Linked DNA regions of Homo sapiens: regions 1, 2, 3, 4, 5 and 6 are each linked to region 7. A link means that fine-mapping ties the variant in region 7 to the plasma level of a protein whose gene starts in the linked region. Region 7 holds a variant in brackets. A gene starts in each other region. All regions are shown on their forward strands.

Region 1 (4,063 bases), not on the chromosome of region 7:
CTTTTAGGGGCTGAAGAAGGCCGAGTTGAGAAGGGATGCAAGGGAGGGGGCCAGAATGAGCCCTTAGGGCTCAGAGCCTCCATCCTGCCCCAAGATGTCTACAGCTTGTGCTCCTGGGGTGCTAGAGGCGCACAAGGAGGAAAGTTAGTGGCTTCCCTTCCATATCCCGTTCATCAGCCTAGAGCATGGAGCCCAGGTGAGGAGGCCTGCCTGGGAGGGGGCCCTGAGCCAGGAAATAAACATTTACTAACTGTACAAAGACCTTGTCCCTGCTGCTGGGGAGCCTGCCAAGTGGTGGAGACAGGACTAGTGCACGAATGATGGAAAGGGAGGGTTGGGGTGGGTGGGAGCCAGCCCTTTTCCTCATAAGGGCCTTAGGACACCATACCGATGGAACTGGGGGTACTGGGGAGGTAACCTAGCACCTCCACCAAACCACAGCAACATGTGCTGAGGATGGGGCTGACTAGGTAAGCTCCCTGGAGCGTTTTGGTTAAATTGAGGGAAATTGCTGCATTCCCATTCTCAGTCCATGCCTCCACAGAGGCTATGCCAGCTGTAGGCCAGACCCTGGCAAGATCTGGGTGGATAATCAGACTGACTGGTCCCACTCTTCCCACAGGCCTCAGAGCCCCAACTTTGTTCCCTGGGGCAGCCTGGAAATAGCCAGGTCAGAAACCAGCTAGGAATTTTTCCAAGCTGCTTCCTATATGCAAGAATGGGATGGGGCCTTTGGGAGCACTTAGGGAAGATGTGGAGAGTTGGAGGAAAAGGGGGCTTGGAGGTAAGGGAGGGGACTGGGGGAAGGATAGGGGAGAAGCTGTGAGCCTGGAGAAGTAGCCAAGGGATCCTGAGGGAATGGGGGAGCTGAGACGAAACCCCCATTTCTATTCAGAAGATGAGCTATGAGTCTGGGCTTGGGCTGATAGAAGCCTTGGCCCCTGGCCTGGTGGGAGCTCTGGGCAGCTGGCCTACAGACGTTCCTTAGTGCTGGCGGGTAGGTTTGAATCATCACGCAGGCCCTGGCCTCCACCCGCCCCCACCAGCCCCCTGGCCTCAGTTCCCTGGCAACATCTGGGGTTGGGGGGGCAGCAGGAACAAGGGCCTCTGTCTGCCCAGCTGCCTCCCCCTTTGGGTTTTGCCAGACTCCACAGTGCATACGTGGGCTCCAACAGGTCCTCTTCCCTCCCAGTCACTGACTAACCCCGGAACCACACAGCTTCCCGTTCTCAGCTCCACAAACTTGGTGCCAAATTCTTCTCCCCTGGGAAGCATCCCTGGACACTTCCCAAAGGACCCCAGTCACTCCAGCCTGTTGGCTGCCGCTCACTTTGATGTCTGCAGGCCAGATGAGGGCTCCAGATGGCACATTGTCAGAGGGACACACTGTGGCCCCTGTGCCCAGCCCTGGGCTCTCTGTACATGAAGCAACTCCAGTCCCAAATATGTAGCTGTTTGGGAGGTCAGAAATAGGGGGTCCAGGAGCAAACTCCCCCCACCCCCTTTCCAAAGCCCATTCCCTCTTTAGCCAGAGCCGGGGTGTGCAGACGGCAGTCACTAGGGGGCGCTCGGCCACCACAGGGAAGCTGGGTGAATGGAGCGAGCAGCGTCTTCGAGAGTGAGGACGTGTGTGTCTGTGTGGGTGAGTGAGTGTGTGCGTGTGGGGTTGAGGGCGTTGGAGCGGGGAGAAGGCCAGGGGTCACTCCAGGATTCCAATAGATCTGTGTGTCCCTCTCCCCACCCGTCCCTGTCCGGCTCTCCGCCTTCCCCTGCCCCCTTCAATATTCCTAGCAAAGAGGGAACGGCTCTCAGGCCCTGTCCGCACGTAACCTCACTTTCCTGCTCCCTCCTCGCCAATGCCCCGCGGGCGCGTGTCTCTGGACAGAGTTTCCGGGGGCGGATGGGTAATTTTCAGGCTGTGAACCTTGGTGGGGGTCGAGCTTCCCCTTCATTGCGGCGGGCTGCGGGCCAGGCTTCACTGAGCGTCCGCAGAGCCCGGGCCCGAGCCGCGTGTGGAAGGGCTGAGGCTCGCCTGTCCCCGCCCCCCGGGGCGGGCCGGGGGCGGGGTCCCGGCGGGGCGGAGCCATGCGCCCCCCCCTTTTTTTTTTAAAAGTCGGCTGGTAGCGGGGAGGATCGCGGAGGCTTGGGGCAGCCGGGTAGCTCGGAGGTCGTGGCGCTGGGGGCTAGCACCAGCGCTCTGTCGGGAGGCGCAGCGGTTAGGTGGACCGGTCAGCGGACTCACCGGCCAGGGCGCTCGGTGCTGGAATTTGATATTCATTGATCCGGGTTTTATCCCTCTTCTTTTTTCTTAAACATTTTTTTTTAAAACTGTATTGTTTCTCGTTTTAATTTATTTTTGCTTGCCATTCCCCACTTGAATCGGGCCGACGGCTTGGGGAGATTGCTCTACTTCCCCAAATCACTGTGGATTTTGGAAACCAGCAGAAAGAGGAAAGAGGTAGCAAGAGCTCCAGAGAGAAGTCGAGGAAGAGAGAGACGGGGTCAGAGAGAGCGCGCGGGCGTGCGAGCAGCGAAAGCGACAGGGGCAAAGTGAGTGACCTGCTTTTGGGGGTGACCGCCGGAGCGCGGCGTGAGCCCTCCCCCTTGGGATCCCGCAGCTGACCAGTCGCGCTGACGGACAGACAGACAGACACCGCCCCCAGCCCCAGCTACCACCTCCTCCCCGGCCGGCGGCGGACAGTGGACGCGGCGGCGAGCCGCGGGCAGGGGCCGGAGCCCGCGCCCGGAGGCGGGGTGGAGGGGGTCGGGGCTCGCGGCGTCGCACTGAAACTTTTCGTCCAACTTCTGGGCTGTTCTCGCTTCGGAGGAGCCGTGGTCCGCGCGGGGGAAGCCGAGCCGAGCGGAGCCGCGAGAAGTGCTAGCTCGGGCCGGGAGGAGCCGCAGCCGGAGGAGGGGGAGGAGGAAGAAGAGAAGGAAGAGGAGAGGGGGCCGCAGTGGCGACTCGGCGCTCGGAAGCCGGGCTCATGGACGGGTGAGGCGGCGGTGTGCGCAGACAGTGCTCCAGCCGCGCGCGCTCCCCAGGCCCTGGCCCGGGCCTCGGGCCGGGGAGGAAGAGTAGCTCGCCGAGGCGCCGAGGAGAGCGGGCCGCCCCACAGCCCGAGCCGGAGAGGGAGCGCGAGCCGCGCCGGCCCCGGTCGGGCCTCCGAAACCATGAACTTTCTGCTGTCTTGGGTGCATTGGAGCCTTGCCTTGCTGCTCTACCTCCACCATGCCAAGGTAAGCGGTCGTGCCCTGCTGGCGCCGCGGGCCGCTGCGAGCGCCTCTCCCGGCTGGGGACGTGCGTGCGAGCGCGCGCGTGGGGGCTCCGTGCCCCACGCGGGTCCATGGGCACCAGGCGTGCGGCGTCCCCCTCTGTCGTCTTAGGTGCAGGGGGAGGGGGCGCGCGCGCTAGGTGGGAGGGTACCCGGAGAGAGGCTCACCGCCCACGCGGGCCCTGCCCACCCACCGGAGTCACCGCACGTACGATCTGGGCCGACCAGCCGAGGGCGGGAGCCGGAGGAGGAGGCCGAGGGGGCTGGGCTTGCGTTGCCGCTGCCGGCTGAAGTTTGCTCCCGGCCGCTGGTCCCGGACGAACTGGAAGTCTGAGCAGCGGGGGCGGGAGCCAGAGACCAGTGGGCAGGGGGTGCTCGGACCTTGGACCGCGGGAGGGCAGAGAGCGTGGAGGGGGCAGGGCGCAGGAGGGAGAGGGGGCTTGCTGTCACTGCCACTCGGTCTCTTCAGCCCTCGCCGCGAGTTTGGGAAAAGTTTTGGGGTGGATTGCTGCGGGGACCCCCCCTCCCTGCTGGGCCACCTGCGCCGCGCCAACCCCGCCCGTCCCCGCTCGCGTCCCGCTCGGTGCCCGCCCTCCCCCGCCCGGCCGGGTGCGCGCGGCGCGGAGCCGATTACATCAGCCCGGGCCTGGCCGGCCGCGTGTTCCCGGAGCCTCGGCTGCCCGAATGGGGAGCCCAGAGTGGCGAGCGGCACCCCTCCCCCCGCCAGCCCTCCGCGGGAAGGTGACCTCTCGAGGTAGCCCCAGCCCGGGGATCCAGAGAACCATCCCTAC
Region 2 (4,063 bases), not on the chromosome of region 7:
GCACGCGCGCGCAGACACACACACGCGCACACACATCTCACTCACACACTCGCCCCACCCCGGGCTCCGGCCCAGCCGCGGCCCTAGCGCCGACTAAGACGCCCAAATCCAGCCGGCGGCCGGGAGAAGAAGCCTCCAGGGAAAGCGAGGGTTAAACTTCCACCTCGCGCAGCTCTCCGTGCCCTGCGGAGACCACCCTCACCTCTGGCCTCCCCCACTCCCCTCCCCGATTTTTAAGGAGAGTCGGGGGTCGCTGGGGAGCCTGAAGCACTAAGTTCCCACGACGGGGGCTGTGGAAAGTCATTCATCACAGCAAAGCTCCCGGGGATGGGGATGGGGATGGGGATGGGGGGGCGGGGACGCCGCGGTGGGAGGGTGCGGACGCCTGGCCCAGCCCCAGCTCGCCTCGCTCAGCCACCTGTAAGCAGGCCCGGGCGGGCGGGACTGCGCCGGCCCTGAGCCCCGCCGGGCTTGGGGACTGGGAACCGAGGGCTGCAGCTTGGCGCTGCCCACCCTGCCCGGCCAGGGGCTTCCGCAGCAGCCGCCCCTACCTATTTATCCGCCGCCCTTCTCTCCTCCCCAGGCTCCGCCGGCTCACACACACCCCCTTCCCCGCTCCCCGCACCCCGCTGCTGCAGCGCCCGCTGCGCCCCAGCTCCCCTTCCCCGGAGAGGACACTGCGCCCCCCGAAGTTTCTGCCCACTCGTCCACCTCGCTGCTCCCCGGTCCCCCCGAGGCAGAGCGACCGACGCAACACGCTGGAAACTCCCCACACACACTTAGGCATGGCAGAAAATAGAACCCAGTTGGGAAAATCTAAACATCGACCACCCTGGCAGGAACCAAAACGCTCTCTGCAGAGCCCGTGGCGCCCCAGCCGGCGGGGGGTGTGCGCCGGAGGAGCCGGCGCAGGGACGGGGCGCGGGGGCGGCACCAACCTCGGCCAGAACATGGGCGAGGTATCCGCAGCCGAGGAGCAGCAGGCAAGCCAAGGTCCTCATCGCGTCCCGAGGCGCTGGCTGCTCGGAGGAGAGGCGAGGCCGCGGGGCGGGCGCTCCAGCCGGTCTCCTGTGGCGGCGAAATTCAGTACCATCCCTTAGGGAGCGCGGCCCGGAGGAGGGTGGCGCGGGGAGCACGGAGCTGGCGGAGCGCGCCCGGCGCGAGCAGTGAGTGCGGAGAGGCAGGCAGCGCCAGCCAGGAGGAGGAGAAACAGGGAGTGCGCGCCCGCAGCGCGGGGAGCCTCCTGGGCCGCCGGGTAGGGGGTGGGGACGGAAGGGGCGGAGGGCGGGGGCTGGGCTTCTTCCTCGGTGCGTTCCCGGTGCTGGCCGCCGCCGCGCTCGCTCCCCGCGCTGGCTTCAGGAGCGACCCGGCCGGTAATTCTGCATATTTGCGGACATCAGCCCCAAGAAGAACTCCGGAGGGAGTCTGGGGCCGCCGCCGCCGCCGCCGCCACACCGATCACCTGCCTGGACGCCTGGCCCGGCCCCGGCTGCGAGCTGCGAGCCGCCCTGCGCGCCCACCGCCGGCCCCGCGCTCGCCTCCGGCCTCCTCTTGCAGCCGCCGCCCGGCCGGGCACAGCGCGGCCCAGCACCCCCTCCGCGGCGCGCCCTCGGCTCCGGCGCCGCGCTCCGCCCTCCGCTCGCCGGGGCCGGGCAGCGCCCGCGGCCGAGCCGCCTGGCAGCCACCACCCGCCGCCCGGGGCCTCGCTGCGCCGCCCGCGCGGGCCTGAGGGCGGGCGCAAGGCCGAGTCGGCGCCTCCGCCGCAGCCGCCGCCGGGAGAGGAGGAGGAGGAGTAGGCGCAGGCCCGGCTCGCCGGAGTTGGGCGGGCTCCGCAGGGCGCGCGTGTGGAGCCGGCCGGCGGCGGGGAGAGGGTTATAGCGCCGCCGCCGCGCCCCTCCCCCGCCCCCGCCCCCGCCCCCCCCCCCCGCCTCCCCCGGATTCCGGGCCTGGGACCCGCACCTCGGAAGCGCTCGGGGTTCGTGCGGACCCGGCAGGGCCCGGGCGCCGCCGCCGCGGCAGGGAGCACACACGCGCTCGCGCAAGCAGCTAAATCCATCAAAGCCCCGCGCCCGGCTCCGCGCCGGGGCTCCGCGCCCCTCCCTCGAGCTTGCCCACCCTCCAGTGCCAGCTGCAATCCTGCGGCACCGGGTGGGGAGGGAGGAGGCCGCCGCAGAAGCGCCGCCGTCGCCGGCTCGCCTCTCTCGGGCCCCAGCGGCGGCAGCGGGCAGCGCCCAGAGCTGCTGCGCCAAAAAGGGCCAGAGAGCCGGTCCCCGCCCCCGCCCCGGCGCTCCGGCCGCTCTCCACGGTTCGGATCCAGGGCCCCAGCCTTCCTCTCTCCATAAAAGGAGGGGGAGTCAGTCTTTGGGGAAGGAGGGGGGCGGGTTTGGGGCACTCACCTGGCGGCTGCCACGCGCCCCCGCCCAGGATCCGAGGCCTGGGGCATCTGAATGAGGACCCTCCACCCACATTTCCACTTGGGAGCGAGCTCCAGTCGGGGAAAGGGCCTGCAGCCCGCCTCGTCCCCACCCTGGGACCCCGCGCCCCCCAGTCCCCCACTCCCGCGCCGAAGGCAGGGCCGCGCCCTGAGCCGGGAAGTCGAGGGGATGGAAGGGAAAGGAGCCACCGGTGAGGGTCCCCCGGGTTCTGAGCCTCCCGCGTCGGGATCCGTGGGGCGCACAGAGCGCCACCTCCGGCCGAGGCGCAGCTCAGAGCGCGATGCGGGGGAGGAACGCGCGCGGAGGCCGAGGTCTGAGCGTGGCTAGACGGCTCCCACGCCGAGAAAGGGCGGGTGCGCCTGGGCTGGATGGATTTCGCCTCCCTAGACCAGGAGGGATTGGACCCTGACTACAGGTCCAGGTGCTCGTCAGTGCCCTGCCAGGGGGTCTACGCGTCCTGGTACCGGGTCCAGCGGGGTGGCGTGCTGTGCAGACCCCGAGGCTAGACGGCCTAGGCCCCTGGAGCCCAGGAGACGCTTCCTTGGGTGAGCAGCGGAGAATCCCGCCCGGCCCAGCCGTCACCCCCAACCCTGTCGATTAAACCCCTGCCCCCGTCGCGGTCGCCCTCCCTCCAGACAAAGGCCGTTAAGGCGCAGCCCCGCGGGCGGTCTTTCATCCCCAGCTAGGCCAGCTCTAGCATTTCAAAGGCCGAATCCGGAGAGCGCTTCGGGGGCTCTCCCCTTCCCCCAAATATTTGGGGAGCGACGCCTCTCCCTCCGCTCCCAGTGGGTCGCGTCTACACGCGCCCTTCCACACACCTGCAGGCCCCCTCCCCACGTCTCTCCCTTCCGTTGGCCGCAGCCCCACACCACGACCCCCGCGGTCAAGCATGCCCTCTGGGTGGTCAGGACCAAGCGGGACCGGGACAGAACCAGGGGAGCCTTGGAAACGTGGAGGAGCCCCTTAAAGCCAGGCCTTGTCCCTCCAGGGGGAACTTGCGGCTTGGGAGGGGACACCCACTGCATGGCTTCTGGAAAGAGCCGGACTCGCAGGGCCAGGACGCAGGCCGGACCCCGGCCTCATTCTTCGGCCAGTTATCCCGGAGTGGCGCGCATCCTGTCTTCCTGGGCCTCGGACTGCTCGCGCGCAGAGGGGGCCCGAGGACACCTCTGTGGGGTTAGAGGACTCGGTAAGACGGTGTGGAAGGCAAGGAGGAAGGTCGCGTTGTATTGGGGATGGGGTACCCGTCCCTCCCAGCTTGAGGGATCCTGGGGGTCCTCGCCGCCTCTGAGGGCCTAGATGGCTGCTTCCCTCGGCTCCCCTGCCCGGCCTGGAGCTACGGGTGCGCCCAGCTAGAGTTTAGGGCCACCTGGGGACGTGCAAGGGGCGCTGGAGCGAGGCGGGGGCTGGGGCGGGGCGTGGGTGCTTCACCCGCGGGGGACGCAGAGCTTAGGCGAAAGCGGTGCAGGCATCTCTCTAATCGCCGGCCGCTATTAAAAATAAAACCGCGACCCGTCGCCATGGCGACCACAACAACAGCGGCCGCGCGAGGGAGGCGAAAACTTGTGCAGCCGCGCGACAGCCGCCTTCTGGGGAGACTCGGGGCACGACGCACCCGGCGTGGGACT
Region 3 (4,063 bases), not on the chromosome of region 7:
CTGAGCCTAAGGTTGCTCCTGCGCTAGGCAAGCAAGGGGCGTGCCGGTGCCCATGAGGCCAAGAGCTGTGCTGGTAAAGTGCCCCAGGGGCTGCAAGTCTGGGCTGGGCCCCTGGAGAGGAAGTACCTGTTTCTTGTTTCTCAGCGGGGTCGAGGGTCCCTGCTGGAGTGGGGGTCACAAGGGGCCCGGCAGTCACCAGTGGGGTGGGGCGAGTTAGAGTTAGCTTCTTCCGCTTCTTCATAATGACCTTTTTCTTCTTGATGACTCGAATCCGGACATGCTGTTCTGAGGTCCCTTGGGGTCCGAGAGGCACAGCATGGGGGAAAGGAAGAATGGTGAAACCCCGGATGGAAAGGTCTGCCAGCCCAAGAAGACATGTGAGCCCACAGCAGGCCACACCACCAGGATCTAACAGCCTTCACAGGACATCAAAGGCCTGCAATCTGACCCCAACCTGCCTCTCCAGTCACTTCCTTGGCTCCTCCTTCTCCTCCCTGATGTAACTACATGCTTGGCCAGCCTCCCCTGTGAACCTCTAATCCAATGGAGAGCTGCACCCAGCCTCTAGAAACTGTTCGGTTGCTCCAAAGAGCTGAGTCTGGCACTTTACCTCCGGGCCTCTGCACTAGCTATCCCCTCCCCTGTAATGCTACCCCTCGCCTCTGATTTTTTCACCTAATTCCCATTCTTCCTTTGCATCTCAGCCCAGATGCCTTTCCAAGGAGGCTTTCTTAGCTCCAGACTCAGCATCATGCCCCAAAACCCCTGTGCCGCTTCCATTGTTGTGTCTGCTCTCTGGGCTCAGATGGCCTGTCCTGGAATCCATGTCTGCCTGGGTGTCGAGGCTTTCAGGGCTGGGCCTGCCCGCCGGCCCTTCAGCACAAGGCTCTGCCCAGGCAGGTGCTGGGGGTACCCATCGAAGCTCCACAGCTGCCTCCAGAACAGGCTGCCCATTTCCGCATCTGGTGCCCCTGTGCCTTTGCCCGCCGCTTCCTTCTTGGCAGCCCTCTCTCTCTCTCTCTCTCCAGACTCCCCTGACTCGGGGACATCACCCTTCAAGACCCTCCTCCACTTGCCTCCTCTAGAAGCCCCTGAGTGCCCTCCGCTTGCGCTCCTCCTCTCCTATTCCACATCTGGAAAGCTGGGAGGTCGGGCTGCCTTCCTCTCCCGCTCTGCCCCATCCTCCCGGCAGCCTCAGCGAGGGGCTCTCCCTTCTTTCCTTTTGTTCTTTCTCTCCAGCCCTCGCCTTCAAACTCTCTCCTACGCAGTCTTGCTCTGCACCTTGAGAGCTTCTGCCCCTCTGTCTCCCCTCCTGCCAGTTCTGGCCTGTTTTGTCTTTGGTGAAAAGGGAAGGTTTGGGGCTTGGAAGAGGCAGCATCCCACTGGCGCCTGTCCTGGGACTGCTGACTAGGTCTGGCAGGGAACTGGGGCTGCCGAGTCAGCAGCCATTGCTCCCAGCAGGGAGTTGAGGGAGTGTGAGTGTGTATATGTGTGTGTGCACTGTGAGTGTGAGTGTGCGCGCGCGTGCACTGTGTGTGCGCGCACGCGCGTGTGAGTGTGCGTGTGTGTGCATGCGTGTGAATGCGCGCGCGTGTGAGTGCAAGTGTGCGCGTGTGTGAATGTGTGTGAGTGCGCGCGCGTGTGTGCGCGTGAGTGCGAGTGTGCGTGCGGGGTGAGTGTGCATGACTGTGAGTGTGCGTGGGTGTGCGTGTGCCCGCGTGTTAGGGAGGGATCGCCCCACGGGGCAGGAGAGCCGGGCAGTCGGCTTGCGGGGGAGCGGACCGTCGGTCGGGGAACTCACCGTTAGCTGTCTCCGCCGGCGGCTGTGCCGGGCTGCTATGCAGGGCCGGGGTCGAGCCTGGGACCTTGGTGGTCCCGGGCTGCGCGAGGCCCAGCACCGAGTTCCTGGGCGCCCCCAGAGCCGGGCCGACGGCCGGCGCGAAGGCGGCCAGGGCGAGCAGGAGCCCCCACATGGCGGGGATTGAGTGCCAGGGGCGCGCGGGCTACGGCGGGTGGCGGGTCGGTCTCTTCCTGCCGAGTGCGCCGAGCCCCCCGCCCCTTCCTGCCCCCCGCCCCTCCGCAGCCTCCTGCCCGCCCACAGCCCGCTGCCCGCCTCGGACCTCGGAGAGGAGGAGAGGGCCGGGAGGAGCGAGCGGGGCTGACCTCCAAGGGGCCGCCCCAAGTCTCAGGACCGCCGACTCTGCCCTTCCTCTCCGCCGTCTGGGGCCAACCCGCCTCGTTGGCGCGCTGCGCCTTTATAGTCTGCAAAGCCACACTGAAGAGACCAGAGATCACCTGGTGGCCATCAAGTCGACCAACAGGAGGCAAAGCCCCTTATCTGAGCAATTCAGAATGACACTTCCCTATTGTCTAAAGCCACATCTGGTACCAAGCTTCCGTCCCAAGAATTTATAAGTAACTAGAATTTCTGTACGTTTCCGGAATGAGTGCACGTTAAGACCCATTGTGCAAACTTTGCTGACATCAAGGCACCAAAATATCGACAAATGTAACCATTTACCATGACCTAAGTGACTAATGTGGTCCAAATTACCCTGCAGTTCCCCGCAGGGAGCTCAGTCCTCTCTTGCTGAAGCGCCTACTGCGCTCTGCTGCCTCGTCCTTTCCGTCTAATAAAACTTTCCTTTTCAGACCTACACGGTTGTTGATAAGTTCTTTTACCACCCGGGAGCCAACCACTTCCCGGTTCCGGAGCTCTGACACCTCGCCTGGCATCTTGGTGGCCCATACGGGGACTTCACTGGGATTTCCCTCTTCCTTTTTCTCTCTGCTTCCTTCCACGGTCTGGTTCTTTACTCTTTGGGGAACTGCCGGTCCCGGTGGAGGCAGCTCTTCTGTGGGATCCTGAAGCCCTAGAGAAGGGATACCTGGCTGTCCTTGCCCTTAGGGGTGAGGGACTGGCCAGGGCTCTTTTCTGTTTTCGGACTGCCAGTGAACCAGCTTGAGTTCTCGTTGGCAACTGACAGTTTCTGGCCAAGCGCCATCCCCCGGTATTACCCCAAGGCCAAGACAAAAGAGCTATTGCCTGTCAGAGTGGCAGGGCACTTTCATTTTAACACTCCATAAGCCTTGTCCTGGAAGCGGTGGATCTCAATTCTACACAGGGATGCCTCAGGGATCTTGTAGTTCCTTGTCTAAACCCAACTTCGGTTCAATTAATTCAGTTCCATCCAACTCGCCCTTGGATTGCCTCCTTAAAAATGGTCCCATTGGTCTCATTTTGACCCACAAACTCTTAAAAATAAGCATATAAGGCTGAGCACAATGGCTTATGCCTGTAACCCCAGCACTTTGGGAGGCCAAGGCAGGCAGATCACCTGAGGTCCGGAGTTAAAGACCGGGAGTCTACTAAAAATGCAAAACTTGGCCGGGCACAGTGACTCACACCTGTAATCCTAGCACTTTGGGAGGCCGAGGCGAGTGGATCACCTGAGGTCAGGAGTTCGAGATCAGCCTGGCCAACATGGCGAAACCCTGTCTCTACTAAAAATACAAAAAAAAAAAAAAAATCAGCCAGGGGGCTAATTATATGTGGCGGGCACATATAATCCCAGCTACTAGGGAGGCTGAGGCAGGAGAATCACTTGTACCCCGGGGGCGGAGGTTGCAGTGGGCCAAGATGGCGCCACAGCACTCCAGCCTGGGCGACACAGCAAGACTCTGTCTCAAAAAATACAAATAAAAAATAAATAAGAGTTTAAAAAGCATATCCTTTTTTCTAATATTGCTTGGGTTCAATACAAGCTCCCTAATCAATCAATTTGGCCAATTAATGAAACTTGGGATTGCAATGCTACTTTACAACTTAACTGATTTTTTGCCGGAACCTTGGAAAGGATTCAGAAGTCCCATATGTTCAGGTCTTTTTTGCTTTATCCCCAAATCCAAACCCAAAATTACATACAAATTGTCATGTATGCTTCCAAGGAACGTCCTCCCTTCCCGGTTCTGATGTCTTAGATGATCCTTCCTTTTGCCTATTACATCCTCCTCAACCTGCTCACTCTTCACCTACACCCTCTCCATCTGCTCCATTCCCTAG
Region 4 (4,063 bases), not on the chromosome of region 7:
AAGTTTTTCTTTCATCCCTACTTCCCAGCCAAGACCTTCCCGTCTGGGGGCCACTCATCCCACATATATCCTTCCTCCAGGCTTTTGACCATGCGGTTCCCTCCACTAGCTGTTCCACCCTCCATTACCCCGCTAGGTCCTTCCTTAGCCCCCTGCAATTTTCCACACTGCTTATCACACTGATTTGCTTGTGCAACTCCAATTTGCCTCCCTAGACTAATAACAAGAAGTCCCATTTGGGAGTACTTAAGGTGTGCCAGGCACTGTGACATACATTAATTAACCCATCTGACCATGAACCTCACCCGATGGAGTAGCTGCTATCATGATCCCCTCTGAGCAGCAGGGGGCTGGAGAAGGAAGGGGCCCAGCTCAGGCCCAAACAGCTACTAAGTGGTAGGGCTCTGATTTCAACTCAAGGAAATGGAGCCAGCAACTGGGCTTTTAAAGTATTCTGCCATTTGCTTAATCTGATTTATTCACCGTCCATCCCTAACACTTGCTCTGCACCTGGCACATAGGAGATGCCCAATTAACATTTGTTCAGAGAATGAATGAATGCATGCTCCCAGCTCCTTTCCCCGTCTGCTTCCTCTGAGGGGTTGGTGTATGGGTGCAAATACAGGCCGGGGACTGAGGCTTATGGGAGGACCCAAGAGGATGTATTTACTGCATGTGGAGGGTTCTGAAAATGAGGACTGGGGCTGGGTAGGCTTTGGGTGGAGAGGGCTTTGGTCAATTCCAGTGGTTCCTTGTTGCTTTGGGGTCGTGGACTCCTTTGAATGTTTGATGAATACCTCAACTTTGTCCCCGGACAAAAATAATGCTCTCTTTAACTTTGGAGACAATGTTAAGGGATTTGAGGACCCCCTGCTAGCACAGATTAAGACCCTCTGGTCAAGCTGATTCCCGAACACATTCTGTAAGGCGGAGCTAGTTGGGATAAGCACATCCCTCCCCCAGCCTCCTCCAGGAAGGCTGTGCATATTCTGGGGTGCCCCCTGTTCACCAGGGGTGAGGCCAGACATCTGGACCACATCTGTGGCTTTAAACACTCCCCCAGGGCTGGCAGCTGGACTCATGCCTTCCTGGAGATATTCTCATTCTCTCTCTCTCCCTGCTTCACCCTCTCCCTCTGTTCCTCCTCTCTTCCCTGTCTTTGCCTCTCTATCTGTTTCTTACTTCTCTCCCTCTTTCTGCCTATCTGCCTGTCTGTTTCTCTCCCTCTCTGTTCCTCTCTCCCCCACTATCTCTCCCTCATTGTATCTTTGCTTATCTCTCTATCTGTCCTTTTTAATTATATTTACTTCTCTCTCTATTTCTGTCTTTTCTCACTCTCTCCCCTCTCCCTCTCCCTCCCTTTCTTCCTCTCTCCACTTCCGTCTTTATCTCCATGGCCCTGCTCTCTGACTCTCATGGCACTGCTATCTCTGCCTCCCTCTCTCTGTCTCCCTTTTCTCTTCCCCTCCCCTTCAGCTCTCAGCTGGGCTGTGGGTTCCCTCTTACCTGGGGACTTGCTACTTCCTGCTGGAGGACAGGCAGGCGGGCAGGTGCTATGGGTGACTAGAGTCCGACCCCCCATTTTATAGTCTGGCAGACATCAGGCCCTATAGTCTGTGGCACAAAGGGGAAGCTGGCTCAGCAGGCCTGGGCAGGGAGTGGGGGACTGGGGCCCTGACCTCGCCTGGATCACTGCAGACAGCAGCACTTTCCTTTGTGAGACCAGCACACACAGCAGAAACCCTGGCCACAGCAGCTTCACCTTCCAACCCTACCCTGACTCCTTTCTCAACAACCCCAGCCAGGGATGGGCCCCCAAAAGGGTCCCTGCTGGCTGCCAACATGGGGCAGGGAAAAGGGGAGACCCTGGGAGGCAGGAGACCAGAGTTTGAATCCTGACTCAGCCACTGCGCGCTGTGTGGCTTTTGGTAGGTCTCTACCCCTAGGGGGGCCTCTGTGTCTGCAATTATAAGGTGGGCACGTGTCCCTGTTGGATGCCATATAGAAAAGAAGGTGACAATGAGCACAGAAGCGTTTTGTAAAGGCAGATGTGGGTTTGATATGGACAGCCTTTTTTACGGAGTGCTTACTGTGTGCCGAACCCGTGTTATCTCGGTCAGTCCCCGGGACAATCTGCCTTATTTGGTACTTTCATTATGCCCATTTCACAGAAGAGGAAAGTGAAGGCACAGAGAGGTCAGAGCCAGCCCAGGCCAGCCAGCTCTGGGCCTGTGTGCTTTCTTCTCCTGCTGTCCAGCCTTGACCTTGGCCTGAGGCCCCCTGGCCTGACTTCCTCTTTGTAGGTTGGGGTGGGAATGGGAGAGTCGCACTGTGCTCAGCTGGGTTGGATATCGGAGACCTGGGTCTTTTTCTTTTCCCCACATTGGGCCCCATCCTTTCCTGACCTATCGACAGTGATCCCTCTCGCCACCCCAGTTCCCCGCCTCTACCCAGGCCACGTTATCTGACCTGGAGGACAGTGCTGGTGGCCAGAAATATGACTGCCTGTCCCAGAGCCTCCTGCCCTGGCAAGCCCCAGATGCCCACCACATCTTGTTCACCACTGGCCCCAGCACCTAGCTGGGCCTGGCTAGGTAGAGCTTGGCACATCATGGGTTCTCAGTCAATAACTGGTGACTCAATGGTGGTTCCAATGGATCGGAACAGAAGGTAGGGTACGGAGGAGATAGGGAAACCAAGGCAAGGAGAGAGAAGTAAGGAGGCAGATAGAAGTAACAGACAAAGAGAGAGGTGGAGACAGAGACACAGAGAGGCACAGGGGACATGGACAGTGAAGGAGCGAGAGACGGAGAGACAGAGGTCAAGTTGGGGTGATCAAGCCTCAGGACGGAGGAACAGACGCCAGAAATCACAGGGCCCAATCCTCCCATTTCACAAATGGAGAAACCGAGGCCCAGGTGGAACAAATGACTTCAACATAGTCACATGGCGGGAACTCACAGTACAGCTGGGGTCAGAAGGAGCCTGGGGAGCTGCTCAGCTAGGTCACCTGCAGTCGGCTCCCCAGTCCCAGGCAGGGTATATTGCGGGGGCATCTGGATAGGCTCCTGTCTCTTCTTTTTCGGGGTTCTAGGCTCCCCGTGGAGCCCAGCTCTGTCTTGAACTCTCCCTGGCCTGGAGCCAGCTTTGCCTCTGTCCCTCCACCACCCAGCACCCCCTCGCTTCCTAGCCTCTCCTTGGCCTTTCATCCTGGGCCAAGACTTGGTGGGTGGGGTGTGGGCAGGAACTGCAAGATGGGGTAGCCACTGGAACTGGGGCCAAGACGCCTGTGGTGAGGGCCCACCCACCAGTCTAGGCTTCAAAGCCAGGTCATCTGGGGCAGTTCCGTGCCCCCCCTAAAGCCCCAGGAATGGGCTGTCTGCCAGAGGGTGGGGGCAGAGAAGGGGGATGGCCCACCATGTTGGTGGCTCCACTCTGAGCATTTATTATTATTATTGTATCCTTCATTATATCTTTTTCTTTTTTGCCCTGTCTTATGGAGCCAATTTATTTTCTTTTCTTTTTTTCTTTTCTTTTTTTTTTTTTGCATTGTCCTGTACTCCTCAGTATAAGGATGAAGTCTCTGGGATTAACCCCAATTACGGATAAGGAAACTGAAGCAACTCCCTTTCCTTCCTCTCTCTCAGCCACTTTCTCATAAAAATGGAAATGTAAGATAAAATTGGAACTCACATCTTCTTTACTCATGAACCCAGGCTCTTAAAAACTATGCACCCCTGCTTTTTGATCAACAATTAATAATAATCATCTTTCTTATTAGCAATGGTGATGATGAAGATGATGGAAATACCACAATATTTTTTATGTTGCAGGAGCAATTCCAGCTGCTGTTCATGTGCTATTCACATTTATCCTCACAATCCCCCTGTTTCTTAGACTAATCCCAACTTACCTTGTTACACCCATTTTACACACAAGTAAACTGAGGCTCAGAGTGCGTAAGTAACATGCTTAAAAGTTACCCAGCCAGCACCAGTGGGATGCAAACCCAGGCAGTCTGGCTGTAGAGGGTGCATTGTTAACCTTTCATTTTCATGCCAAC
Region 5 (4,063 bases), not on the chromosome of region 7:
TTATGTATCACATGTTATGCTCTCTTGGTATTTCATTATACTCCAGTCTTTAACAAAAAGGTGCAGAGGAGGGGAAAAAAGGGTGCTCTGGGAAATGAAGAGATGTATTTAAGAAGAATAAAGGTATCATCCTCACTAAATTGCAGATTGGAATTTCTACGTGTTAGGGGGGTGTTAGTCAATTGCGGGGAGCTTGACTGCTGGGTGATCAGGCCCAGATCCTGGAAGTCCCACTGTATGTTTTTTCTTTTGGACCTGTTACTCCAGGGGGGAACCCCCATCTGTCCTTTCTTGGGGAGAGGTTGGGGAATATGCTGGCTACAGCAATAGAAGAGGCCTCAGGTCCTCACATTTCAGTAAATGGACATCTACTTCATACCCATGTTCAGTAACCGCCCCCCCCCACCCCACACCCCAGCAAGCTAAGACTGGGGTCCTGTGATCTGGAGCCCTATGGTTCAGCATTTCTCTGGAACAATCTTCCTATCCCCCAACTAGTTGCTGCCTAGTATCAGCTTCCTATCCTTAAGGGGAAGGGCAGAAAGTAAGGATTCTTCCCCACCAGAAAATTGTAGTGCCAGAAGGAAAAGGAGAGGTTAACTATGATCCAAAGAAACAGAAAACCGGTGAATGGCTACCAAATGCTCACCATGTCCTAGAAAGAAACAATTCGTTTGAAACGTCAAACACTTACTATGGGTCAAACACTGAGAAGCTCTTACCATATCATCAAATCCTCGGGCAATAATCCTTGAGGCAAGCTTGAGAAATTCCATTCTACAGCTGAAGAAATCAAGGTTGGTGTGGCCAAGAGATATGGAAAAACCAAGTCACTCATCTTTGCCAGAGCTGAGAGTCAAGCCAGGATGGTCTGTCCATCTCTTAACCAGTACACTACCCATTAAATTAGCGCTGGCAACTATAGTGTGGGCTCAGGGAGGACAGCATCTAGGTATTTGACACAGAGGTGAGATAATGGTGATCTTTCCCTCTATCTGGGCTGGTCAAGATGTGGCCATCTCTGGAGGCTCCCAGGGCCTAAATAAGAGGCCTAGAAGACCTGGGATTGTCCCTGTAGCTCCCCATCTTGGAGTCAGCCTGCATTCATGGGGCAGGAGCCCTGAACCTGCATCAGGTTCCTTCTTTCTCAGGTAAGGAAAAAACTTAGAGCTGATAAGGCAGCACCACATTTTGCAGCCCCATTTTGGAGAGACATCTTTTTATTAGGACTTTGTAAGTCACTGCAGTAGTCTCCTAGGTCTCATTTATTGAATATTTAGATTTTTATTCCTGTTCTGTGACGCCCTTTTCATCTGCCTAAAAAAAAAAAAAGAAAAGAAAAAAGAAAAAGAAAAGAAAAGAAAGAGAAATCTTCCTAACACAGTCTTAAATACAGAAGGCTATGCACAATCTTACTTGTCCTACACTGCACAGCAAATCAAGCACTCACAGGCCTTCAGGTGCACCTGCCTGGTTTCCCTCCTCTTGGCTAGGGAAGTACTGGGGCAAGTGGGCAGTTTCTTTTTCAAATTTCCACTTATACCTGACCTTAGGTGGTGCCTATTCAACACTTACAGAATGAATGAAACAAAAAGGCTCATTTAGAGTGGGCGCTAAACAATGTGTACACATGGACTTAGTGGAATAGTAGACACTGGAGACTCCAAAAGGTGGGAGGGTGGGAGAGGGATGAGGGATGAGAAATTACCTATTAGATACAATGTACAACATTCGGGTGACAGTTACACTAAGAGCCCAGATGCCACCACAATGCAATATACCCATGGAACAGAACTGCACTTGTAACCCCTAAATCTATTTTTTAAATGATACCCCCCAAAAAGCAGTTTGGGGTCTGAGAGTAAGGGAGGGAGAGGGAGAATGAGAGGCGGGAAGTGGGGTGGGGAGAGACAGGCGGGGAGGTTCCGGTGTGAAGTTGTTTCCGCGCAAAAGAAGGAGAGCGGCTGGCGGGGCAGACATAGGTGTCAGGAGGACAGGAAAGGGGACAGGACCAGGAGGCTGGCGCTTACCCCAGGAGGATGAGGAACCGCGGGTCCGTGGCCAGGTTGGCGTCAATGGTGACGGACAGGAACGAGGGGCTCACCAGGTGCAGCGGCTCCTGGGTGAAGAAGTCCAGGTCCACGACGTCCTGTGCTTGCGCAGGTCGGGGCAGGGCGCCAGGGGAGAGGGGACCCAGCGGCCCCAGGAGCAGCAGCATCAGCGGCGGCGGCAGCGCAGGCTTCGAGCGCAGCAGCATCTTGGGCTCACCTGGCTGCTCCCCCCGCCAGCTGCCGCGCAGCGGAGAGTCGAGAGCTCTAGCACTTCCTCCCGCCGAGCCCCAGCGCCCTTTTCTCCTTTCCTCCGCCCCGTTACGCCTCCTCACCCCTCCCACTGCGCCCTCCATCCCTCCCACTCCTCTTCTGCATCCCTCCCACTGCTCCCAATCCAACCCCGCCCCGCCTGCCCGGCTCTCTCCTACTTCCTTGCTCGCTTTCCCCTCGGTGGCGGTCACGTTCACTTACGAAATCACCCACACCCACTTGAAGGGTGCGGAGATGGCCGGGATCCAAGCGCCCGGGAGGCCTGGGGAGGAGCGCCCGGGGAGGAGCGCCCGGGGAGCAGCGCTGGGCATCCCGGACCAGGCTTCCTGACGCACGTGTTCTGCGCGCTCTCGTGGGAACCCAGCGTTTCCGACTCCCAGATCCCATTCTGATGGCGCCGGGTATCCCTCTGACCCTCGAGTAAAACCTCCAATGGAGTATTCATCCCTTCCTCTCCCATCTAGCTTATAAACACTTGCTTGTCACTTGAGCCAGCCAAAATCTGATTGTCCTCTGGCCAGGCAGTTTCTCAGGTATTTTACTTTTGCTTGAAAAAATCTGGCCTCAGCATACGCTAAACTGCAGCTGGAAAGAGATCAACCACCCAAAATTCTTTATCAACTTCTCATTAAGACAATATTTAGCAATCTTAAAGGGTTAGTTGCTCCAATGTCTGGAACTCAGGACCTGAAGCCCCCATACAAAGTGTAGAGTACGGACTGCCCCTGAATTTGGAGCCTTTGCCAAATTTCTCCTCTGCGCATTTATCTTTCGCTGTTGGTCAGACTTTTCTTCAGCTTTTCCTTGATGCTTACACTGATGTATAATCATAGCAAGCATCGCACGCTTAGTGCCTACTGTATGCCTGATACAGGTGCTTTACTTGTGTTCTCTTCCCTTCTCACAACCCTGCCAAGTGCATACTGTCCTTGTTTTACACATGCGGACCCAAGCTCTGAGACAGTAACTGGGTGAAGTGTCAGAATCGGGATGTGAAGTGTCAGAATCGGGATGTGAATGCAGTTACAAAACCTCGAGCAGATGGCAGTGTGTTTCAGCTGAAATGTAACTTCCCTCAAGGAAGCTTTCTCTCAATCTCCAGGCAGCTCTCCATGACACACTCTCATAGCATCCTCAATTTGTTAGACACTCTCGTAGCATCCTCAATTTGTTAGACACTCTCGTAGCATCCTCAATTTGTTAGTATTGTGATGTTGCTCAACATTGGCTTCATCTACTAGATTATATGCTCCACCAAAACAGAGATTAAGTTTGTCTCACACGCTATGCTAGCCATAGCTCAGGCATGTGATCATGTTGGTGCTTAGTAAGAGTCTAATAAATATTGGTTGAGTAAGCAAATAACACCAAAACCCTTAGATTTTTCCACTTGAGATTGTACCACCAATAAGGCAACAAATAAAAATAGATTATTTTGAAATGCATATCTAATTTGCATAAATCAGGCCAGGCATGGTATGTGATGCCAGTGATGCCATCATGCCTGTGATGCCAGCATTTTGGGAGGCCAAGGTGGGAGGATTGCTTGAGCCGAGGAATTCAAGAACAGCCTGGGCAACATGATGAAACCCCATCTCTACAAAAAATACAAAAAATTAGCCAGGCGTGGTGGCCCGTGCCTGTGGTTCCAGCTACTGGGGAGGCTGAGGTGGGAGGTTTATTTGAGCCTGGGAGGTGGAGGTTGCAGTGACCCTTAATCACACCACTGCACTCCAGCCTGG
Region 6 (4,063 bases), not on the chromosome of region 7:
TCTTCAGGTTGGGAGGCTCCAACCCATCCATAGCCTTAGGTTCTCTTTGTGGAGAGCACGAACCGAGCATCCACCACCCTAAACTCCAGCTTAGATCCCAGTTCCTTGTCCACTGACCTAGGTCCTACAGGGTGGAGTGCAGTGGCTCGATCTCGGCTCACTGTAATCTCAAACTCCTGGGGTCAAGCAATCCCTCCTCCTCAGCTAAGTAGCAAGGACTACAGGTGTATGCCATCACGCCCAGCTAATTTTTTTATTTTTAGCTTTTGTACAGATGGGGTCTCGCTATGTTGCCCAGGCTGGGTCCTACCTTCTACCCTCCATTTAGGTGTGATCACAGAAAATGTCTCTCCCTGTGAGGAAAATTTGCCCTCTCCTCCCCAGCTACAAGACAGGGTTGTGGCCTAGCTTTGCTGCACCAAAAGAACACATGAATGTATTACAGAGTAGAATATGGCACTTAGGGATTCCTTGAAGGGCAGAAGCAGGACCAGAGCGGGGTCACACAGCACCTCTGCAGTAAATCTGGCAAGGCTTGGCAGGCCAGTCCTCACAGTGTTTCTAGGGACACTGGAACCCCGAGAGTCCCCCAGAGGCCCCATTCCTAGCAACTGGCAACCAAAGCCCATTATTCCTGCATGAACCCCTCCTGACCACACTGGCAGGGGCAACATGGTGGCCAACCTGGGGGAGCTGGCCAAGCTTCGAGACCTGCCCAAGCTGCGAGCGTTGGTGCTGCTTGATAACCCATGCACGGACGAAACCAGCTACCGCCAGGAGGCCCTGGTGCAGATGCCATACCTTGAACGCCTGGACAAGGAATTCTATGAGGAGGAGGAACGGGCTGAGGCTGATGTGATTCGACAGAGGCTGAAGGAAGAAAAGGAGCAGGAGCCTGAGCCCCAGCGTGACCTGGAACCCGAACAGTCATTGATCTAGCAGCAGTTCTAGCCTCTAAAGATAGTAAGGAAGCCTGCAGGGAGGCAGTGGGAGGAGGCCAAGGGCTGGGCAGGTAGGGGAAGAGGCAAGAGGGGAAGCTGCTGCAGAAGGAGGTGGGAGAGGAAAGCATCAGACAAGCAGGACCCTTAAAGAGAGGAGGGTTAGGAGTCAGGGAGAGGAAAAGGGACCCAAGGGGCCTGGGACCAGCTGAGAAAGACTTAGGAGGCCAGAAGAGTAAGTGAAAAGAATTGGGGTGGCAGGCAGAGGAGTTGGTGGGGGGTGGGGCAGCCATACCTGACACAGAGTGAAGTCGGCTAGGAAAGGACAGGTGTGGGTGCATGGTAGGGGCTGCAGGGGAAAGTTGGTGGTGTATGCAGCTGGACCTAGGAGAGAAGCAGGAGAGGAAGATCCAGCACAAAAAATCTGAAGCTAAAAACAGGACACAGAGATGGGGGAAGAAAAGAGGGCAGAGTGAGGCAAAAAGAGACTGAAGAGATGAGGGTGGCCGCCAGGCACTTTAGATAGGGGAGAGGCTTTATTTACCTCTGTTTGTTTTTTTTTTTTTTTTTTTTTTTTTTTTGCGAGGTAGTCTTGCTTAGTCTCCAGGCTGGAGTGCAGTGGCACAATCTCAGCTCACTGCAACTTCCACCTCCTGGGTTCAAGCAATTCTCCTGCCTCAGCCTCCCGAGTAGCTGGGACTACAGGCGCATGCAACCGCGCCTGGCTAATTTTTGTATTTTTAGTAGAAACGGGGTTTCACCACGTTAGCCAGGATGGTCTGGATCTCCTGACCTCGTGATCTGCCCGCCTCCGCCTTCCAAAGTGCTGGGATTACAGGGGTGAGCCACAGCGCCTGGTCCCTATTTACTTCTGTCTTCTACCTCCAGGAGATCAAAGACGCTGGCCTTCAGACCTGATCAGACTCCCAGGGGCAGCCACCACATGTATGACAGAGAACAGAGGATGCCTGTTTTTGCCCCAAAGCTGGAAATTCATCACAACCTGAGGCCCAGGATCTGCTCTGTGCCGGTCCTCTGGGCAGTGTGGGGTGCAGAATGGGGTGCCTAGGCCTGAGCGTTGCCTGGAGCCTAGGCCGGGGGCCGCCCTCGGGCAGGCGTGGGTGAGAGCCAAGACCGCGTGGGCCGCGGGGTGCTGGTAGGAGTGGTTGGAGAGACTTGCGAAGGCGGCTGGGGTGTTCGGATTTCCAATAAAGAAACAGAGTGATGCTCCTGTGTCTGACCGGGTTTGTGAGACATTGAGGCTGTCTTGGGCTTCACTGGCAGTGTGGGCCTTCGTACCCGGGCTACAGGGGTGCGGCTCTGCCTGTTACTGTCGAGTGGGTCGGGCCGTGGGTATGAGCGCTTGTGTGCGCTGGGGCCAGGTCGTGGGTGCCCCCACCCTTCCCCCATCCTCCTCCCTTCCCCACTCCACCCTCGTCGGTCCCCCACCCGCGCTCGTACGTGCGCCTCCGCCGGCAGCTCCTGACTCATCGGGGGCTCCGGGTCACATGCGCCCGCGCGGCCCTATAGGCGCCTCCTCCGCCCGCCGCCCGGGAGCCGCAGCCGCCGCCGCCACTGCCACTCCCGCTCTCTCAGCGCCGCCGTCGCCACCGCCACCGCCACCGCCACTACCACCGTCTGAGTCTGCAGTCCCGAGGTGAAGCCCCCGCCAGGCCCAGAGCCCCTGTGGCCCCCTCCCTTCGCCGCGGCGCCCCTGCCTCCTTTACCCGGTGCCGCTGCGCACCTCTCCGCATCTCTGGCCCGGTGCAGCTGCGCACCTGCTCCGCCGCCCGCGCCCAGGGCGCCTTCCCTCCCTGGCCTTCCCCGCCCGCTGCCTTCGCTTTCTGGCCCTCTGCGCGCCTATCTCTAACTGCGCCTCTCCACCCTTGCCTGCCTCTCTCCCGGTGCTCGCCCTCATCTACGGTTCTATTTGTTTCTAAGTTGGGAGCCTCTCCGGGCGGTGCATTTTTATCCTAGAGCGTCCCTTTTGGTTTGCATTTGGGGAAATGTCTTCTCTCACCGTTCCTCACCTCCCCCAGACTTCCCTTGGACTCCCCTCTCTCCTGCTCTTCCCCACGGCGCCCCTCTCCGTTCGCGCTTCCTCCCCTCTGCTGCACGGGGGAGAGATGGAAGAAGTGGGGATCTGTCGAGGCGCAGAGGGGAGGACAGGCCCAGCTCGCCTCCACTCCCCACCGGCTCTTATCCTCTTCACTTCCCGCTGCAACCCCCAGGGACTGCAGGGCCTTTCTCAGGACCCTCTTCCCCGACACCTGTATTGCATGCGCCTTTCGCGGGAAGAGGAGGGATACACGTTTGGGAGAGAGTGGGACCTTGGGGAAGGGGCAGTGTTCAGGCAGCTGGGGTGTTAAGTTGGGGAGGTATGGGGGCTCTGGAAGAGAGGCCCAGGCAGCCCATCCTCTTCTTGGCTCCCAGGAGAAATGCAAGCCTGGCAGCCATTCCGCTCTGAGGAGATCTGGGGGAACCCCACCGGCTGGCCAAGCTGCAAAGAGGCGCGGGAACCACTGTCGTGCCCCTCCCCTCCTCACTGCAGTGTTCTCCCATCTCATCATTTGATCTTACCCCGCCCCCCACTGCAGTGACCTCCCCTTCCTCACTGCATTGACCTTCTCCTCTTCCCAGGGGGGAGGGGGAATCCCTTCTACAGCCCTAGACTGCAGCCAGCGCCTCCCTACCCACCCCCCACCCACTGCAGTAACCTCTTTCCCATCCCTCCCAGCCTCCCGCCCCGCCCATTGATCTCAGGCTCCACCCCTCTAAGCCTCTTATCTTTCTCCTTCCTTCCCTTCCACCCGAGGAGATCCCAGCCATCATGTCCATAGAGAAGATCTGGGCCCGGGAGATCCTGGACTCCCGCGGGAACCCCACAGTGGAGGTGGATCTCTATACTGCCAAAGGTAATGGGTGTGGCATGGGCCTTCCTACAGCCCTAGCTTTTCCACGGCCAGGCTGGGTTCGGCCAGGGGTTCGGAGGCCTTTTTTGATACCCAGGGGTATGGGGTGCTGGGCCAGGCTCACAAGCCTGGGTTGTGGCGGTTGGATCCTCCTTGTCCGGGGAGCCAGGGTAGGTGGGTCTGTGTTCGAGTTTAGCGTGTGAGGCATGTCCT
Region 7 (4,063 bases):
CATAATAGTAAACTCATCGCAACCTGTTAAATTCAACAAATGAAATTTGACAGAGAAATCTCATTTTATTCTGTTCAATCAGAATAAAATGTATTATTTTCCCACAGGGTATTTGTGATACTGAATTTTTTTTAAAAAAATGAAATATACATATAAAGGGCACTATAGATATTTTGTTGACCTAATAATGAAATAATGCATGTATCAAATTGCATCTTAAAAGTTTTAAGATAGTCATCTTTATAGAAATGTGGTTAAGGAAAAAATTAGAAGTTCCTGATCTACCTGCTTATAATTAGAATTATTAATTGCCTCCATTTATCCCTTTGCAGTTTTATCTTTTCCAGTATTCATCTTTTATCTTAATAATTGCTAGTCTTCAAGCTTCATATTGTACATATCCTGTAGCAAATATATCTCTACCTATGTCTCCAGCATTCACCTCTATAGGCAAAGGCTGCTCAGTGGGCACACCTGTGACTTTTCTACCTGAGCACTTTTTTCCAGCGTTAAGAGCAAACTCCTTGCAAGCTGGGAAAGCTGGAAGTGCTGGAGATTTCCTATTCCCAAAGGTTATCCTCAACCAATGATGGACAGAAAGTTGGTGGACTAACACCTCCGCTTCCCTTCCTCTTGGTTAGGATATAAGATGTGTTCTATATTGTCTGTTAGAGTTTGGCAGTGGAATTGAGCTCTGATTGCCTTGATAGTGAACATTTTGTGGACCTCTTCCCTTTCCTGCTTACTTCGCCACAACCTTACTGGAATTTTCTGGGATCAACTTCCCAGTAAACTACTTGTATTTGAATCAGTCTCAGGGTAAGCCTCTGGGGAATCCATACTAAGACAGCCTCTAAGATGTAATAATGAAATAAATTTAAAAGCAATATCCAAATTATTATTGAGATTCTAGAGGACATAGAATTATTTAATCTTTATTATTCAATTTTGGACCTCTACTACTGGTACATAATCGGTATTCAATAACTGCTCTTTAAAATAAAAATCTAATCGAATTGAATTTGCTTATCAGGAACATTCTCACTGACTCCACCCATATTCTCCATCTTTCCCATCTCAATGGCATAATTTATAATTTTGCTGAGGCATGACTTTTTGTTGAGCCTCAGATTTCATTGATGTTGACATTGTGAATGATATCTTCCTTCTTAATATTCATTTTAATCTGGGCTCAGGACTACCATACTTTCCTATTTCTCATATCTCTCTGGGTCTTAGCTCTTTTTAATTTAACTGTGAGTGTTTCCCAAAACACTTCTGGCCTTTCTTCTCTTCTCCCTCTGTTCCCAGTGCCTCAGGGAGCTTATCCACTTGCAAAGCTTCAGCTACTAATTTACAAATGACATTTAAATAAAAAAATCTCTAACCTTGGCTTTTTACCCTTTCTCTAATAGCACATTTCAACTGTTTTGCAAGCTTTCCCATTTAATTCCTCCAACTACACAGTCACAAAGAGAGTTTATTCCTGTCTCCACAGACAGCCTCTCTTTTCCATGACTTCCAGCTTTCAGTCACCTTTAATCCTAGTCCTCTGCCTCTCCTTTCGTACCTCTGCAGGGAGTCCATTCTCTCAATTATCCTGTGTCTTTTCTGCATTTCTACCTCTCCTTCTCACATCTCAAATGCTATTCACACACAGTTACACATACCCATACCTCTCTCCTTTTGCCTGTAACTACTACCATCTCTTTTTCCTTCTATTCAGAGTCAAACATCTTCCAAGACTCTCCATTTCATGTCCAGAAACCAAGCATCATAACTCCTGCTTTCGTAATGATTGTTCTCCTCTTTCTGTCCTGCTACCACTGCTTTAGTCGAAAGCCCCACCGCTTCTCTCTTGATTATTACAATATTCTTCTGTTCTCTCTTGTCATCTTTTTATTTACTCAGACCACAGTATGTCCTGAAAGCAAAACTACAGTAGTCACTTAACTCCTGTGCTTTAAAATCATTCTAAAGGGCACGAGAATACCCCAAGGTTTTGGTAAAGCCTAAAAAAGGCCTTCCTGTTACTCACCTCCCCAGGTGATGCTCACCTCCCCAGTTCTGACCCCTTTTCCACTCTCTTATAGACTTTAGGCATTCTGAACTACATGCAGTGCCCTGAATGTCCATTTTTTTTCCACATCCGTACATTTGGTCATGCTGTTTTATCCTCCTGGAAACCCCTATTCCCCCCTCCCCACCTATCTCTCTTCATCTCACTAAGTCCAATACTTATTTAAAGACTCTGCTCAAAGTCACTTCCAAGGTAGACCTTCTCTGAAGCCTCCTGTCTGGAATAGATAACCACTCTTGGAGTATTTCCCTGGTGCTCTAGGTTTACTAGGATAAGAGCACTGATCACATAACTGTGAGCTCCTGTTTGCTTGTCTATCTCCCCTGCAGACCATATGCTTATTATCTATTTTTTATCTTTCTATCCTTCCCACTTAGAACAATGTCTAGCTTATACTAAGAGCTCAATGAATAACATTGAATGAATCAGCACATT[A/T]ATTTTTTCCTTTCACTTTTCTCCATATCAGGAACAGCTGCACACCCCTCCTTATTCAAGACCCTGCATCCTTCCTGAGGCTTTACATCCATGTCTGTTTCGTCTGTGATCTTGCTTCATCTGCCTAACTCAGCAGAGCAATTACCACAGGAAATGCTATCTTGTACCTGTTTTATTTGTTTATAGACTTGCACTTTTATTTTAGTCTCGTTTGAGAGGAAACTTCAGTAGGACAAGATAACTATGTCTATTTCTTCAGTTTTTATCTCATAAGGAGATATGCCCATGATGGTTTCTTGAGAAAAGTTGACTAATTTCGGTGTAAGATTTGCAACCCTTGGATGCAGCTAGGAGGATGAGGTGTTGCGCCTAGTGAGGCAATTATGATTTGTTTACAACAGACTCAGTTTTAGATCCCTCACTATGACATGGGTGAAGGCCAAGAAGGTGTTCTGCTCTACCATGCTTTCTGTGAAGTCTCATCCAGCCTCACACGTTCCAGTGACAAACCATCTGGGAAATTCCATCTGTCTCTGCTTGGAAACTGAGGTGGCAGTCGCCCACTGTGAGCAATTTTCTATTAACTTCTTGGATAAGATCAGTCAGATTTATACTGAATTGATGGGAACCGTAAGAGCAAGATTGTTCCAAGAGAAGACAAATGTACTGATTCCTCTAATTGGGCTTAAGCCAGTTTCATTCACAGACGCCCTTAGGTTCTAGTAGTGCAAGGACTTATAACCTTTTTAATTGTACCCTGTTCCTCTTGGGAAACATTGGTGAAATTCATTATTGATGGAGGTTGTAGATTTGTCCCTTAGGGAGGGCAAGATCCTGGCTTCTCTTATACTCTATCTGCTATGTGGAGAATTAATGGAAACTGAGTGGACAGAAAAGCTGCTCAAAGAAGACTTGAAGGCAAGAAATGTAATGCAGCAGAGCCTTGGAAAGTGATGCGTTGGTTTGGTTTCTAGAATTAGGGTAGGGTTTTTGTTGTTTTATTGATTTTTATTTTTATTTATTTTTTTTTTGATGGAGGGGGATTACTCAGGGAAAGAGGAGAAAGAAGTTTGTGTGGAGGCCTCAGTAATCAAAGGCCTGCTATTGAATGTGAGTCAGAAAGGAAGAAATTAAACACCGAAGAATTATTTCACAATTGAAATATGTAGAAGCCAGAGAGGTCAATTGCATATTAATCTGAAGGGATTTGCTGTGTTATAATGCAGATATAGTTATGATGTTGGCAGTGGATGAAAATACATTGTCATATGGCACAATGGTATTGAAATGAAAACCTGAATTTGTGCCCTTCCTGATAATTTTTACTTGCCTCCAAAATAATACCTTTTGTGTATAGCTAGCCTGTTAACCTCAATCTCATCCTGACTTACTTTTTCTCCTGATGGTGAAGTCTTTCCAGGTTCTTTACATTTGGACTTGGATTTGAAAGGTGGAAACACAATTCCTTGCTATACATAGACAATTTTATTTATGGACCTAACTTACTCTCCTCTGCCTGAAATTTTAATACATTTTGGCCTTTGGTTT

Direction of the effects. Positions count from the first base shown, and alleles are read on the strand shown. Strength reflects both the effect of a copy and how common the allele is.
In carriers of allele T in region 7, the plasma level of the protein whose gene starts at base 2,136 in region 1 tends to be lower than with A alone (strong association).
For the plasma level of the protein whose gene starts at base 1,846 in region 2, allele T in region 7 goes with a lower level than allele A (moderate association).
In carriers of allele A in region 7, the plasma level of the protein whose gene starts at base 2,028 in region 3 tends to be higher than with T alone (moderate association).
For the plasma level of the protein whose gene starts at base 1,557 in region 4, A is the high allele of the variant in region 7 and T is the other (moderate association).
In carriers of allele A in region 7, the plasma level of the protein whose gene starts at base 2,323 in region 5 tends to be higher than with T alone (moderate association).
For the plasma level of the protein whose gene starts at base 2,516 in region 6, T is the low allele of the variant in region 7 and A is the other (moderate association).

What was found. PIP is the chance, under the fine-mapping model, that this variant and not a neighbour inherited with it causes the effect. Protein levels are from antibody-based Olink assays in UK Biobank. Linkage for the fine-mapping came from a reference panel and not from the study's own genotypes, which makes the PIPs less certain.
Region 1: VEGFA starts here. The variant in region 7 is fine-mapped to the plasma level of the VEGFA protein (UK Biobank, PIP above 0.99).
Region 2: it holds the start of PDGFA, and the variant in region 7 is fine-mapped to the plasma level of the PDGFA protein (UK Biobank, PIP above 0.99).
Region 3: it holds the start of CPXM1, and the variant in region 7 is fine-mapped to the plasma level of the CPXM1 protein (UK Biobank, PIP above 0.99).
Region 4: CRYBB1 starts here. The variant in region 7 is fine-mapped to the plasma level of the CRYBB1 protein (UK Biobank, PIP above 0.99).
Region 5: it holds the start of HPSE, and the variant in region 7 is fine-mapped to the plasma level of the HPSE protein (UK Biobank, PIP above 0.99).
Region 6: ENO2 starts here. The variant in region 7 is fine-mapped to the plasma level of the ENO2 protein (UK Biobank, PIP above 0.99).

The regions. Positions count from the first base shown.
Region 1 is chr6:43,768,076-43,772,138 of GRCh38, forward strand. VEGFA (vascular endothelial growth factor A) reads left to right here and starts at 2,136. Exons shown (of 8, transcript NM_003376.6): 1 at 2,136-3,237. The coding sequence starts at 2,632. RefSeq lists silencers at 1,949-2,198, 2,576-3,515, 3,586-4,063 and enhancers at 2,561-3,326, 3,327-4,063.
Region 2 is chr7:518,001-522,063 of GRCh38, forward strand. It overlaps PDGFA (platelet derived growth factor subunit A), which reads right to left and starts at 1,846. Exons shown (of 6, transcript NM_033023.5): 1 at 939-1,846. The coding sequence starts at 1,001. It overlaps PDGFA-DT (PDGFA divergent transcript), which reads left to right and starts at 2,391. Exons shown (of 3, transcript NR_033963.1): 1 at 2,391-4,063. RefSeq lists enhancers at 638-1,559, 3,404-4,063 and silencers at 816-905, 1,366-1,505, 1,786-1,875, 1,976-2,315, 3,981-4,060.
Region 3 is chr20:2,798,600-2,802,662 of GRCh38, forward strand. It overlaps CPXM1 (carboxypeptidase X, M14 family member 1), which reads right to left and starts at 2,028. Exons shown (of 14, transcript NM_019609.5): 1 at 1,802-2,028; 2 at 127-294. The coding sequence starts at 1,973. RefSeq lists enhancers at 1-597, 598-1,585, 1,586-2,571.
Region 4 is chr22:26,616,471-26,620,533 of GRCh38, forward strand. CRYBB1 (crystallin beta B1) reads right to left here and starts at 1,557. Exons shown (of 6, transcript NM_001887.4): 1 at 1,507-1,557. It also overlaps a transcript of CRYBA4 not described here. RefSeq lists enhancers at 611-1,288, 1,967-2,642.
Region 5 is chr4:83,332,526-83,336,588 of GRCh38, forward strand. It overlaps HPSE (heparanase), which reads right to left and starts at 2,323. Exons shown (of 12, transcript NM_001098540.3): 1 at 2,031-2,323. The coding sequence starts at 2,257.
Region 6 is chr12:6,912,065-6,916,127 of GRCh38, forward strand. ENO2 (enolase 2) reads left to right here and starts at 2,516. Exons shown (of 12, transcript NM_001975.3): 1 at 2,516-2,595; 2 at 3,757-3,853. The coding sequence starts at 3,769. LRRC23 (leucine rich repeat containing 23) reads left to right here. Exons shown (of 8, transcript NM_001135217.2): 7 at 666-963; 8 at 1,827-2,165. The coding sequence ends at 939. RefSeq lists enhancers at 1,919-1,988, 2,019-2,188, 2,867-3,508, 3,509-4,063 and silencers at 2,299-2,788, 2,320-2,510.
Region 7 is chr8:105,566,785-105,570,847 of GRCh38, forward strand. All of the region lies in intron 4 of ZFPM2 (zinc finger protein, FOG family member 2), which reads left to right. Among named protein-coding and RNA genes, the nearest start is that of ZFPM2, 250 kb to the left of the region's middle. The variant A/T (reference allele first, on the strand shown) is at 2,516.